Linked DNA regions of Homo sapiens. The protein of the gene in region 1 interacts with the protein of each later gene in a biochemical or structural test. Each region holds a gene or a part of one and is shown in the gene's direction. Other genes may lie near its edges.

Region 1 (7,026 bases):
TCACTAAATTGCCTTTCTTCTGCAGAATCACTTTAGGGACAGGCTGAGGAAATCACTGTTTCCTTGGTGGTGTGAAGAAAATGGGATGCGATCACCTAGCGGGGAGCTAATAGCCTTTTAGCCAGTGGAGGAGAAAACCAATTAAAAATTATGATATCTGTTAAAATGGAACCTGGGGTGCCAAGGGGAAGGGAAGGCCCGGAAGCTGCCATCTCCCCTGAGACCTTCCCCCTCTGCAGCCTGGCCGAAGACCCTCTAGGTCCCCTCGTCTTAACTGGATAAGGCTAATACCAGCAGTAGCACCCCATGGGGGCTCACAGTGCACTGCCCCTGTGCTGTGCCTACTCACTTCATCTTTTCCAACAAGTCTGCAAGGGTCATGGTCTTGGCCCATTTCACAGGTGAGGAAACAGGTTCTCATAGCCTATGGACTCGAACCGGTAGAGAGGATGCGGGAGCTCCCCAGCCCTGGCCCTCTGGCTTGCTCCAGCCCGTTCTCTGGGCCAGTGGTGTGGGTCCAGGGTGGGGCTAAGGAGGGCTTCCAGGGAGGTTGCCCTGAGCCTGCCCACCCACTGGTGAGTCCCCCCACCTCGGGCTCCAGGTGCCCTCAGGACATCCCAGCCCAGATCCCAGAGTAATGTGTGGCACCATGCACAGACGCTGAGATACTCTCTGGGTCTCGTCAGCTTTAGTTGATGTCTGGGAGTCCTATGGGTCTGGGGAGGAGCACCAGGCATGGCTGTGCCAGCAGAAGGGCCGACTGTGTGTGCTCTGTGGATGGCAGGAAGGCATCTTGCTGCCAGTGGCGGTGCAGATGTTCGGCTGGGACACCAGGCTGTGGCCCTTGCAGCCAACATATGCCTGAGGCCCTGGCATCGGATGGAAGCTACTGCTCTGAAGACAAGGGTGCAGGGATGGGGTTTGGGCATCAGGGATGGGGGTACAGCTGTGTTTCCTCATGCAGGACAGGGCCTTCCTCCTCATTTTTCCCATCCTCCAGGACAGCCTGGGAGAAGAAAGCCAGGGAATAGGGGCAAAGCAGGGTGCAGCCCCCCATGCTCCCTGCTGCCCTCCTCCCCTCCTGCAGAGGCACTTCCTTTCCACTTCAGGAGCCCCTCCCCCAGAAGTGGGCCCCCCCCATCCCCCCTTCCTTCTTTGGAGGCTGCTTCCTGGTGCCAGGTTATGCTCCCTCCCCGTTCTCTGCTGTGCCCTCTATCTCCCCACTCCTCTGCAATTATTTTTCAGCAGAGTGACTTAATAGTAACAATAACAGTAACAATAATAGTAACAACAGCAGGCTGGGAGCACTCCTGAGGGAGCCTCGGCTCCTGCCCTGCTGCTCTAGGGCTGGGGACTCTCCAGAGCTGTCTCATGGCAGGGAGAGACCGTAGTCAAGGAGACCCTGTGTAGGGACTTCCGCATGCGTGTGTGGCAAGGGGCGGGGACTGGGCAGTGACCACCAGGCAGGGAGCACACCTCAGTCATGGTCACAGAGAAGGTGATGATGGCACCAGGGCTGTCTCTCCGTGCCCGTCTGCACCTGGGCCTGCCAGAGCCGTCTTCTGTGCCCCATGGGGTAGGGGAGCACCCCATGGCCCCTGGGAGGCTGCCAGTCAGTGGGACTATGAGGTCAAATGGGGAGGTCCCTTGGGGTCCATGACCCAGGCACTGCACCCCTTGGGGCTGGAAGGGGAGAAGGCCCCAGGCCCACCAGAGCCCCTCTGGCTCCCCCACTAGAACAGCAGCCAGGGCCGGCTCAGGGATTGAGGCGAAGCCTTGGTGCTTGATTCTTTGTCCCCTGAGGCAGGCTGTACCTCTCATAGGAGAACTTTGGAGGACGGGCCTTCTCCTGACCAAGGCTCTGGGACACTTGGCAGCCCCTGAGGTCCTGCTTTACCTCTCTGCTTTCTCCCCCCTTCTCTGAGCTCTGGGGCCAGGCCTGGGCACTTGGATTGGCGCTGAGACAATGAGGCCTGAACCTCCATGGAGCTCTGGTCCCGCAGCTGTGTGATCATGGGGGCCTCAGGGACCCCGCTCCCCTCCATTCCCCAAGCCTAGAGGCCATGAAGCCTGTGGGTCCCTGAACTGTCCACCCTGAGACTGCAGGCAGGGCAGGGCTGGGCAAGAGCAGGCAGCAAGCTGTCCTTGTTCCCACAGCTCCTCCTGGCTGGGCTCTTGGCCCCTGAAAAGCCTGGGGCAGGGAGATGGTGCCAGCAGGACCTTAAGGACAGCAGTTCAGGTCGCACCTGGCCCTGGAGGGAGCAGGTGGCCAGCTCCAAGCAAACACCTCTGTTTGCTTTTGCCTCAAGGAGTGGCTCCACAAAGTGTAGCAGCCCAGGCACCACCACAGAAAGGTCACCGCTGCACCTGGACAGGTGTGCGCCTACCTGGTGGACCAGCGGGCATAGGCTTTCCTCCCTGATATCAGGGATACCTGGAGGGCCTGGTGCTGGGGCTCTGTGCTCAGGGGAGAACCTGTGGCCCTACAGCCCCAGGTTCTAGACCCCCTCCCAGATTCGGGTGCTGCAGCTGCGCTTCCACTCCTGGCCCTTGCTCCTCTGTGCTGCTGCTCTCCATGCCCTGCAGGAGCCAGGGTTCCAAGGAAGCACCTGAGGGGCAGTGTGGCCCCAGGGCAGGAGCAGGACAGTGGCCACCAAGCTGTTTCCAGTTCCCTTGTGTGCCTGTGACTCCAGAGGATTCTCGCCCTTGTGTTCCTGAGAGGGAAAAAGGAAACATGTATTTCCTAGAATTTAAGTAATGACTGGGGAGATGTGTGCTCTGGGTGCCGGGACGAGGGTGGGTGAGCTGGAGGTGCAGCATGAGCTGGTGCAGTTCTGGAGGGAGGGAGAGGGCTCATTGGGTTTCTTCCTCATACTACTTGGCAGTGCAACTGGCACAGACCCGGCAGCTGTTGCTGGGCTAGGGGCCAGGGGCTTCCTCTTGCTCTGTTCCCCTTCCTGCTCCACCACCATTGCCTGTAGGGCGTCTGCCAGCCCCAGGAAGCCTAACACTTAGCCCAAGTGGGGCTCTGGGCCTGGCCCTCCTCACCCAGGGAAACAACGGGGCTCATGGGCGCTTGGTGACATGGGCACATTGCTCTGCCATCGTAAGGGGCCAGCCTGGCTATGGGACCCAGCACCGGTGGGCAGCCCACAGGTTGTCTCTGCAGGAGACTCCTCTGGCAGGTCACATACAGGATGCCCCACAGCACCTTGAAAACTCGTGACCCGGGAAAGCCTCAAATTGTCTTTGCTCCCCTAGCCTCCCCACCACCTGTATATGCAGGGGCATGTGAGACTGTACTTGGTGACAGGAATGCCCCCCAGTCTCAGGGGCTTAACGCCATCTACTATGTCCTTCTTGTGGCATAGCCTGGCATGGCCCTTACCCACTGGGTGGCCACACCTCCCAGCCCTTGTGCCTGGCTATGTGCACAGGAGGGCACAGAGCTTCAAGAAGCCTGAGGCTTAAGGAGCTTTGAGGCCTGGGAGGGGGCCACCGTCACTTTCCCTGTGTTCCGTGGGATCCTGTCACATGGTCGTTCTCACCCCAGGAGGCTTCAAGTACAGAGGACGCGGGGATGGGGGCACGCAGGGGTGTACCTGCACACACTTCTGCCTACCAGCTCTCCATCCCTTGTCCTGGTCCACATAGCAGGGGCTCCTGGCGGGCCCAGCAGCTGAGGGGGACAGAGGGGGAAACAGGGTAGCAAATAATTATGGTTTACTCTTTTTTAATTGTGAAATTTGTGTAACATAAGTTTAACCATTTATAAGTGAACCATTTGGTGGCATTTAGCACATTTACAGCATTGAACAGGCATTGCCTTAGTTCCAAAAAATTTGCATCACCCCAAAAGGAAACCCCATACCCATTAAACAGCTGCTTCCTGTCCCCGGGCAACCCCCAGCCTGCGTTCTGTCTCTGCGGCTTGGCCTGTCCTGGAACATTTCATCTGCATGGACTGTTGTCTGGCTTCACTCAGCATAAGGTCTTCAGGGTTCCTCTAGGCTGTGGCACACATCAGCCCCTTCCTGTGAGGGGTAAATAGTGTGCCGTCACCCATTCATCTGGGGATGGACACGTGGGTGCTTTCCACCTTTTGGCAGTTATGAAAAATGCTGCCAGGGACATTCCTGTTATAAATACCTGAGTTCGTGCTTTCAGTTCTTTTGGGTACATACCTGGACATGAAATCGCTAGGTAATTCTGTTTTATATTTTGTGGAGCCGCCAAACTGTTTTCCACAGTGGTTGAATTGTGTTACATTCCCAAGGGTTACAATCTATCCACATTCTCACCACCACGCATTATTCTCTGTTATTCTCTGGTTCATGTCTCACTCTGGCCGTGCAGCCAGTGCACAGTGCTAGCTCGTTGTGGCTTTGGTTTGCCTTTCCCCGGTGATGGCGTGCTGGGCATCTTTTCCTGTGCATGCTGGCCAGTTGCATGTCTCTTTGGAGAAGCATCTCTTCGAGCCCTCTGCCTGTTGTCTAACTAGATGGCTGTCTTGCCATACAGCTGACTTTGCTGTTGCATCTGCATCAAGAGCTGCAGAGAAGCAGCTTTATCCAGGGCCGTCACTGTCAGTGATTGAGCCCCAGGTCCCTTGTGAGGAGAGTGTGGATTCGTCTGATTCCTCACATGGGCATTGAATCACCACTGCCCTCGAGGACCTTGAGGACATTCTCGGAAGACCTGGACTCTGAGGCCACGTTGAGCACCAACATCTGGAAACCATGGTGTCACTGCTTGTGCATAAGAAGGGGCCTCTCAGGAACCGCCCTGTGAAGGATGGAGGAAGGGGAAGGTGCAAGGAGCCAGCAGACCCCCACCCCACTGACAAGACGAGACTCAGCAGCAGGGGAACCAGGGCCGCCCTCTCTCGCTCATCCTGAACCCTGACTCTAAAAATAACCAGGCTGATAATCGGATCCGCTGTAAGTTGATTATCATCATTGCCGTGGTGTGATGTCATGCTGCCAGGCCCTGGGGCAGTTTTCTCAGGACAGCGGTGGATGCACCTAGGCAGCTCTGGAGGCCAGCATGGAGCTGGGGGGCCCTGAACCGAGGGTGGCAGGCAGCCTCTGTGGGCTCCTGCAAATCTGCTTGGTGGGGGTGGAACACTGGCATCCATAGGCAGGCACTCTGTGCTCCCAAGGAGGAGTTCCTGTCCCCATTCGCAGCTAGGGACAGAGCCAGGGAAGCCAAGTGCCCAGCCCTGGCAAACAGCGGGGAAGCACAGGGGCATGGGCTGGGCCGCTCTGCCCTGCGTTTCTGCTCCTTCCTGCTGCTGAACTCTCTCCTTTCTGCTGCTGAACTCTCTCCTTTGGACTAGGCCTTTGTCTTCTTGCCTCATCGTCAGTGGCCTGGGAGGACACTTGCAGTCTTAATCCTGTTTTGGCCCCATGTCCCTCACCCCCCAGGGGCCACCTAGGCCAGAGCCTGTCCTGATTTCCATCTCGGCCACCGTCTGCCCCTCGGCCCCTGGTCAGGAGCTCATTCTGTGGATACTCCTGCATAGACATCACGTGGACTCAAAGGGCATGAGGACCTCGGCTGAGAGGAGCTTACACATCAGTGCAAACCTCTCATTTTACACAGGGAGAAATCGAGGCCCTGAGGGAGGCGTGAGTTGTCACACATGGGGGTAGTGTCAGATGAAGACTTGGCACCACTTCCCTGGGCATCCCCTTCCCTGCATGGCATCCCCAGCCTTGGGTTTGGATTCTTCTTCACCCTTGATGTTGAGGTCTTTGCTCCCAGGACCTGGATAACAGCATCCAGATGCAGGTGGTGCCCCCGCATCGGGCTGCCTGGCTGTGACCTGGGGCATCAGGATTGTCAGCTTGTCTGGCCCCAGGTCTGTGCTGGGCTGAAACCTACTGTCTCAGAGGCTCCTGGCTCTCTCCCTCTGCTCTCCACTGCTCTTAAGAGCAGACCCTCAAGCCTTTTTTGTGTCCTCTCTCCAGGGAGAGCCCAGCTTCTACTCTGCAGCCCAATGCAGAAGGGGTGGTAGCTCACGGTGCCTCGGCTTCTCTGCATGCCTGTCACTGAACAGAGAAGCCCAGGCCAGACTGCAGCTTAATTCCTAGCCTCTGTGTGGCCTCCAGCAGGGTACCTAAGCTAGTGCTGCCTCATTTTCCTCCTGTGTGAGATGGGAATCCTCATGGTCCCTACCTCTGACAGTTGTTTTGATGCAGTGGGTGATGCAGATGAAGCGCCCGGAGCAGACCTGCTCATGAGGAGCACACCGTGGATTCCTACTGGTTAATGTTGAACAGGGATGAGAAGGGGCTGGGGTAGGGCGAAAATGGGCAAGACCATCTCAGCTTGAGGAACATGAGCTGACAGATTGACTTAAATTTGCACATGGACATGATCTGAGTCACTGCCTTGCTGAGTGCATGGGGACAGTTGCCCAGGCCAGAGGCACCAGGGTCAAAGCCAGTGGTGATGCCCTGGCCCCGTTGCCCCAGGCCAGGGCCAGTGAACAATGTAATCAGCTGGGGCAGACTCTACAGCCCTGCAGCCAAGGGGGCCAGTGACCCTTACATGGTCATCCACAGGCCACTTGGGTGGCCAGTCCTGTTCAGCCAGGCCTTGCCCTAGGAAAGAAATTAATTATAACCTAATTGGCAGTTTCCTTTGCATAGAAGCCGGAAGCAACTGCCAGTGAGGCTGGTGATTAACTCTGCAGCAGCTGGGAAATTGCAGTTGGGCAGGAGCGCCCATCATCCTGGCCAGGCCGCTGCAGCTGGTCTGGGTATGGAAGTGTGGGTGGTGGCCATCGTGCAGCTTAGGGCCTGGGCCCCTCAGAGCAGAAGGCTGGGTCTGTGTGCAGAAGGTAGCCTTGGGCTGCCAGGTCCCCCAGTGCCCAGTTGCGGACCTCCTTCTCCCAAACCTCAGCCATGCCTGGACCCCTTCCCCACTCACGGCAGAAGGCTGCATGGCTTTTAGGGGTGTCAGGAGGCTCATGTCCTGGTTGCAGTTCTACCATGGGTGTGCAGCGGGAATTCTGGGCTT
Region 2 (7,026 bases), on another chromosome or scaffold:
ATGACTGTCTTTCCACCTCTCCCTCAGGGAGCAGCTGCCCACCCTGACAGTGAGGAGCAGCAGCAGCGGCTGCGGGAGGCAGCTGAGGGGCTGCGCATGGCCACCAATGCAGCTGCGCAGAATGCCATCAAGAAAAAGCTGGTGCAGCGCCTGGAGGTGAGGCTGGGAGTTTCACCAGGAGCAAGAGAGAGTGTGGGTGCTGTGGGAGGAATGAACTGAAAGGGAGGTGCGGAGAGTAAGTTAATACGTCCTTGAGGCATAACCTGGGCAAGGTAGGCCAGGGACTGGGCTGGGCATGGGAATCCATGGGCTTGGTCTGACTACTCTTGTCTTCACAGCATGCAGCCAAGCAGGCTGCAGCCTCAGCCACACAGACCATCGCTGCAGCTCAGCACGCAGCCTCTACCCCCAAGGCCTCTGCCGGCCCCCAGCCCCTGCTGGTGCAGAGCTGCAAGGTAAGACTCTAGGAAGGATGTGGGAGTGGAAGAGGGAGACTTGTGGGTCTCTTATGACATTTTCACCTACAGGCAGTGGCAGAGCAGATTCCACTGCTGGTGCAGGGCGTCCGAGGAAGCCAAGCCCAGCCTGACAGCCCCAGCGCTCAGCTTGCCCTCATTGCTGCCAGCCAGAGCTTCCTGCAGGCAAGGCACCCCCTCTGCACTTCTCTGACCTGACCTTCCCACCTTTCTAAGCTTCCATCTCCCACAGTTTGAATCTCTGCCAAGAGCCTCTTTCCCAATACCAAGCCCCAGTGTTCCCTACATCCTGACCATCATCAGTCCTTGTACCCAAGCCCAGAGGGAGGATGGCACACTTCATCCACCTGCCTATTCCCCAACAGCCAGGTGGGAAGATGGTGGCAGCTGCAAAGGCCTCAGTGCCAACGATTCAGGACCAGGCTTCAGCCATGCAGCTGAGTCAGTGTGCCAAGAACCTGGGCACCGCGCTGGCTGAACTCCGGACGGCTGCCCAGAAGGTATGGAAGCTGGTTCTGGCTTTGGAAGATGAGGCTGGAGTCCTGTGATGAGAGGAAATCTGTGCAGAATAACCCAATACGCAGATAATTGTGTAATCAGAGGCATTGGTGAGACACAGCAGGACCTTCTACACCCAAAACCCCTTTCTTATCATAGGCTCAGGAAGCATGTGGACCTTTGGAGATGGATTCTGCACTGAGTGTGGTACAGAATCTAGAGAAAGATCTACAGGAAGTGAAGGCAGCAGCTCGAGATGGCAAGCTTAAACCCTTACCTGGGGAGACAGTAAGTATGTTTAAGACCTCATTCTTACTCAAATCCTAAAGTCTTCCTTCACCTCCGTGCCCCAGAGCTGCTCAAAACCTTTCCTTCCTTCCTTTTTCTTTTTTCTCTTTCTCTCTTTTATTTTTCTTTTCTTTCTTCTTCCTTCCTTTTTTCTTTCTCTTTCTCTCTCCTTCCTTCTTTCTTCCTTCCTTTCTTTTCTTCCTTTCCTCTCCTCTTTCTTTTCTTTTCTCTTTTCTTTTCTTTTCCGTTCTTTTATTTCTTTTTCTTTCTTGATGGAGTCTCGCTCTGTCACCTAAACTGTAGTGCAGTTGTGCAATCTCAGCTCACTGCAACCTCTGCCTCCTGGGTTCAAGCCATTCTCCTGCCTCAGCCTCCTGAGTAGCTGGGATTACAGGCATGCACCACCACGCCTGGCTAATTTTTGTATTTTTAGTAGAGATGGGGTTTCGCCATGTTGCCCAGGCTGGTCTTGAACTCCTGACCTCAGGTGATCCACCTGCCTCAGCCTCCCAACGTGCTAGGATTATAGGTGGGAGCCATCGCACCCAGCCCAAAACATTTATTTAAATTGCCACCTGTCCCCAAGTACCTTCTCAGGTTCCTTCTCCTCACCTTCTCCTTTCTCAAGCCCAATTCTTCCCCCTTCATCCTTAGATGGAGAAGTGTACCCAGGACCTGGGCAACAGCACCAAAGCCGTGAGCTCAGCCATCGCCCAGCTACTGGGAGAGGTTGCCCAGGGCAATGAGAATTATGCAGGTATGTGGGCAGAGAGCCAGGCATGGGGCATATTGTGAGGGAGGTAGGAAAATGGGAGCTGGATGAGGGATGGGACTGACAGACGAAACCACTGGAATCAGGGCCTGGCAATGAAAGCACCTTCCCTTCCCTCTTTCTCCTCATCTCCCAAGGTATTGCAGCTCGGGATGTGGCAGGTGGGCTGCGGTCACTGGCCCAGGCCGCTAGGGGAGTCGCTGCACTGACGTCAGATCCTGCAGTGCAGGCCATTGTACTTGATACGGCCAGTGATGTGCTGGACAAGGCCAGCAGCCTCATTGAGGAGGCGAAAAAGGCAGCTGGCCATCCAGGGGACCCTGAGAGCCAGCAGCGGCTTGCCCAGGTCAGATACTGGGAAAGGGCCACTCCCTCTCCCCCAGGTTCCTTCATAAGGCCCACCCTGATTGAGGCCAAAGCTTCTGAGCCTCGTCCACACTCACAGAGTGATGTCTTCTTGGGTCTGCTCTTGACAGCCCCTCTGTGGATTCCACCCTTATGTTCTCTTAGTCTTTTTTTTTTTTTTTTTTTTGAGACAGAGTTTTGCTCTTACTGCCCAGGCTGGAGTGCAATGGCGCAATTTCGGCTCAGTGCAGTCTCCGCCTCCTGGGTTCAAGTGATTCTCCTGCCTCAGACTCCCTAGTAGCTGGGACTACAGGCATGCGCCACCACACCCAGCTAATTTTTGAATTTTGTTTTAGTAGAGACAGGGCTTCACCATGTTGGCCAGGATGGTCTCGATCTCTTGACCTCGTGATCTGCCCCCCTCGGCCTCCCATAGTGCTGGGATTACAGGCGTGAGCCACTGTGCCCGGCCCTCTTGGTCTTGTAGAAGTGTCTCAGTTGGATTCAGTCATGGGCTGAGCTAAACACCAAGTTTGGGGAAGTTTAATTACTGTCACTTGAAACCCTAACCTCAGCCTGTTCACCTACAACGCCCCCTTTCTTTTTTCACTTTCAGAGGCAGTAGAGCTAGTCATCTCCCATGTCGCGTGAATGGAGGCGATCTCTCAAATTCTTTTCACTTGGGCAACCCTGTCTCCTTTCTCACCCCAGGTGGCTAAAGCAGTGACCCAGGCTCTGAACCGCTGTGTCAGCTGCCTACCTGGCCAGCGCGATGTGGATAATGCCCTGAGGGCAGTTGGAGATGCCAGCAAGCGACTCCTGAGTGACTCGGTAGGAGGACGGTAGGGGGTGGGGGAACGTAGGAGTCAAAGAATGCCAGGCCTCTCCTTCCTCCCTCTCGGTTGTCCTTTGACCCTGACTTCCCAGATCTGTCCCCTTTCATTACTCCCAGGCTATGTGCCCACCTTTTCAGCCCTCCTTTACCAGACTTCTCCCTGCATCATTCCCCACTCTTCTGTCTGACTTCCCCTCTCACCTTGCAGCTTCCTCCTAGCACTGGGACATTTCAAGAAGCTCAGAGCCGGTTGAATGAAGCTGCTGCTGGGCTGAATCAGGCAGCCACAGAACTGGTGCAGGCCTCTCGGGGAACCCCTCAGGACCTGGCTCGAGCCTCAGGCCGATTTGGACAGGACTTCAGCACCTTCCTGGAAGCTGGTGTGGAGATGGCAGGCCAGGCTCCGGTATGAAGAGGCAGAGGGTCTGGTTGAATGGTTCCCACTAAGGGTTAGATAGGAGGCAGTTGAGTGACCAGTCCTGACTTGCTCCTGGCTCCCTTCCCTCCCCAGTCTCTAGCACTACTTGAGTGTCTGGGAAAGAAGATCCCTTTTAGAGACAGATAAGAAAGGACAGGACAATGCATTGACCTTGTCACCTTCAACAGAGCCAGGAGGACCGAGCCCAAGTTGTGTCCAACTTGAAGGGCATCTCCATGTCTTCAAGCAAACTTCTTCTGGCTGCCAAGGCCCTGTCCACGGACCCTGCTGCCCCTAACCTCAAGAGTCAGCTGGCTGCAGCTGCCAGGTAAGTAGTTGCTGAGAAGCCCAGCCCTGGACTGTGTGAGAGAGACTGGGGAGCAGGCAGTTCATGAGAGCTTCTTGGCTTAGGAATGGTTATAGGCAAAAGATAAATACTTACATAGGACCCAGGAATGATGACCTATTCACCTTTTCACTCAACTTTCTGTCACTCCCAGGGCAGTAACTGACAGCATCAATCAGCTCATCACTATGTGCACCCAGCAGGCACCCGGCCAGAAGGAGTGTGATAACGCCCTGCGGGAATTGGAGGTAGACACATGGCAGGCTGATGGCATTGAGGTTGAGGGAAGTGTTCTGGTTTTGGGCCTGAGGGAGGTGTCTTGGATCTCACTTTGCCCTCCCCCTACACAGACGGTCCGGGAACTCCTGGAGAACCCAGTCCAGCCCATCAATGACATGTCCTACTTTGGTTGCCTGGACAGTGTAATGGAGAACTCAAAGGTCAGCACAGCCAGGAACTCGGAGGAGAGAGGGCAGTAGGATGGAGCTAACCAGATGCTGCCCTGGGGTTCTGAGGACATGCTCTGACTCCCCTGATGTCCTCTGTTCCTCAGGTGCTGGGCGAGGCCATGACTGGCATCTCCCAAAATGCCAAGAACGGAAACCTGCCAGAGTTTGGAGATGCCATTTCCACAGCCTCAAAGGCACTTTGTGGCTTCACCGAGGCAGCTGCACAGGTTATTTTCCTGAGATGGGTTCTTTGAATGGCCCCTACTTTCTTTACCCCATTTTCTCTCAGCCTGACATACCTGTAGATAAATCAAGAAGTTTATGTTTGCAAAGCCAACTCTATGGAATCTGGGTTGTCCTCCTCCTGAAGTGGAGACACTTGTCAGCAATTACTGAACACCAGCAGTTCTGATTTCTGTAATTCCTGAACCCTGGTACTTTGGTTAGGATTACACTGCCCAACCGTGAGGCCTTTTCCAGCTGGCTTTCTCAAAATATACTAATTAGCTTATACAAACTATTTTTTCATGTTATTACTACTTTCTTTTTTTTTTTTTTTTTTTTTGAGACAGCGTTTCGCTCTGTCGCCCAGGCTGAAGTGCAATGGCGTGATCTAGGCTCACTGCAAGCTCCGCCTCCCGGGTTCACGCTAGTCTCCTGCCTCAGCCTTCCAAGTAGCTGGGACTACAGGCGCTCACCACCACACCCGGCTAATTTTTTGTATTTTTTTTTTTTTTTTTAGTAAAGACAGGGTTTCACCATGTTAGCCAGGATGGTCTCGATATCCTGACTCGTGATCCACCTGCCTCGGCCTCCCAAAGTGCTGGAATTACAGGCGTGAGCCACCGCGCCTGGCCTGTAATCACTACTTTCTTTTTTTTTTTTTTTTTTTTTTTTTTTTGAGACCGAGTTTCGCTCTGTCGCCCAGGCTGGAGTGCAGTGGCGCGATCTAGACTCACTGCAAGCTCCGCCTCCCGGGTTCACGCCATTCTCCTGCCTCAGCCTCCCGTGTAGCTGGGACTACAGGCGCGCGCCACCATGCCCGGCTAATTTTTGTATTTTTAGTAGAGACGGGGTTTCACCGTGTTAGCCAGGATGGTCTCGATCTCCTGACCTCGTGATCCGCCCGTCTCGACCTCCCAAAGTGCTGGGATTACAGGCGTGAGCCACCGCGCCCGGCCAATCACTACTTTCTTAAAATAGTACTAGTGACAAAATTTCCAGTTACTTGAGTTATCACTTAACTTTGCCTTTTCCCACATTATCAAGTATAAAACTACCTATTAGCTGTAAAGTATTTTGCTTTAGTATATGAATCCTTAAAACAAACTGGCATCATAAGAGTTCACTTCAGACTATTTTCCCTGAAAGCCTACCATCCTAGCCCTCCATCTCCACCACCTCCCTGTGCCCTGTCAGAATAGGCGCCTTGCTCTAGATGGCTTGTTTGATTTTGTTTTTTTGTTTTTTTGGTTTTTTGTTTGTTTGTTTTTTGAGACGGAGTCTCGCTCTGTCGCCAGGCTGGAGTGCAGAGGCATAATCTCGGCTCACTGCAACCTCCGCCTCCCGGGTTCAAGTGATTCTCCTACCTCAGCCTCCCGAGTAGCTGGGACTACAGGCGCCTGCCACCACACCCGTCTGATTTTTGTATTTTTAGTAGAGACAGGGTTTCACTAAACCTCTTTGTTGTTTGTTTGGTTTTTTTCCCCCCACCTTCTGAAAATGCATAGAGGAAAAAGCAAAGCTACTGTGTATTGATTGAAGTATGAATCAAACATTAGGATGTTCTTTCCATCATAAAAATGGCTTTTTAACCCCTCCCTTCCTTTCCAAATATCTGACGCATGGAGGTGCTATAAATGTGAATTAGCCTAATAACCTTCATCAGTTTTGAACTGTCTTTAAAAGAGGCTTTGCTTGTGTGCACAAAGGTGTGTATTTATATATGGCTCTCAAACGTTTTACTGCTACTTACAGTAAGCCATACTTTTCACTCTAAGACCCAACATACACAAACATATCTAAATAGAGATTGGATAAAAACCCTTGCTATGTAGTTTTCCTTTTTATTAACTTTTTTAATCTTCTGAAATGCTTGAATATACTTAATGAAAACAGGAGAGTATTTTTTTTCTTCTTTATAGTGTAACCATTGTTTGCTAATGTATCTCCACTCATGGAGAACTCTGGAAAATAAGCCCTATTCTCTAAACTTACCTCTGCTCTCTTTTGTCCCTACTATCACTATTCATTTCCCACCTGCAATCTTTATTCCTCACCCCCACCCCCTTTTCTCTTCCCAGGCTGCATATCTGGTTGGTGTCTCTGACCCCAATAGCCAAGCTGGACAGCAAGGGCTAGTGGAGCCCACACAGTTTGCCCGTGCAAACCAGGCAATTCAGATGGCCTGCCAGAGTTTGGGAGAGCCTGGCTGTACCCAGGCCCAGGTAACTCAAGGGAACAGGGACCACAGGCGAGTCTGGGAAAGGGCAGACCGACCCCGTGGAGTAGAGGGAGGTGAGGCATGTGGGAAAGAGGGCAGGGACCCATCTCTGACCTTGCACACACAGCTTCTTTTTGGGTAACTGTCTTTTTCTGC

What was found. Proteins that work in one complex are often made in the same cells at the same time.
Region 2: the proteins of RET (region 1) and TLN1 interact in a surface display test, tested with the Homo sapiens proteins (2 studies listed by BioGRID and IntAct, with this or other methods).

What each region holds. Positions count from the first base shown.
Region 1 is NC_000010.11:43,080,052-43,087,077, forward strand, and holds part of RET (proto-oncogene tyrosine-protein kinase receptor Ret isoform a precursor), read left to right. Parts: intron 1-7,026. UniProt on the Homo sapiens protein: Receptor tyrosine-protein kinase involved in numerous cellular mechanisms including cell proliferation, neuronal navigation, cell migration, and cell differentiation in response to glia cell line-derived growth family factors (GDNF, NRTN, ARTN, PSPN and GDF15).
Region 2 is NC_000009.12:35,708,189-35,715,214, reverse strand, and holds part of TLN1 (talin-1), read left to right. Parts: intron 1-27; coding exon 28-156; intron 157-338; coding exon 339-455; intron 456-527; coding exon 528-641; intron 642-841; coding exon 842-976; intron 977-1,133; coding exon 1,134-1,262; intron 1,263-1,916; coding exon 1,917-2,019; intron 2,020-2,171; coding exon 2,172-2,380; intron 2,381-3,090; coding exon 3,091-3,210; intron 3,211-3,422; coding exon 3,423-3,620; intron 3,621-3,820; coding exon 3,821-3,960; intron 3,961-4,132; coding exon 4,133-4,226; intron 4,227-4,328; coding exon 4,329-4,418; intron 4,419-4,473; exon of another isoform or gene 4,474-4,531; coding exon 4,532-4,654; intron 4,655-6,730; coding exon 6,731-6,874; intron 6,875-7,026. UniProt on the Homo sapiens protein: High molecular weight cytoskeletal protein concentrated at regions of cell-matrix and cell-cell contacts. Involved in connections of major cytoskeletal structures to the plasma membrane.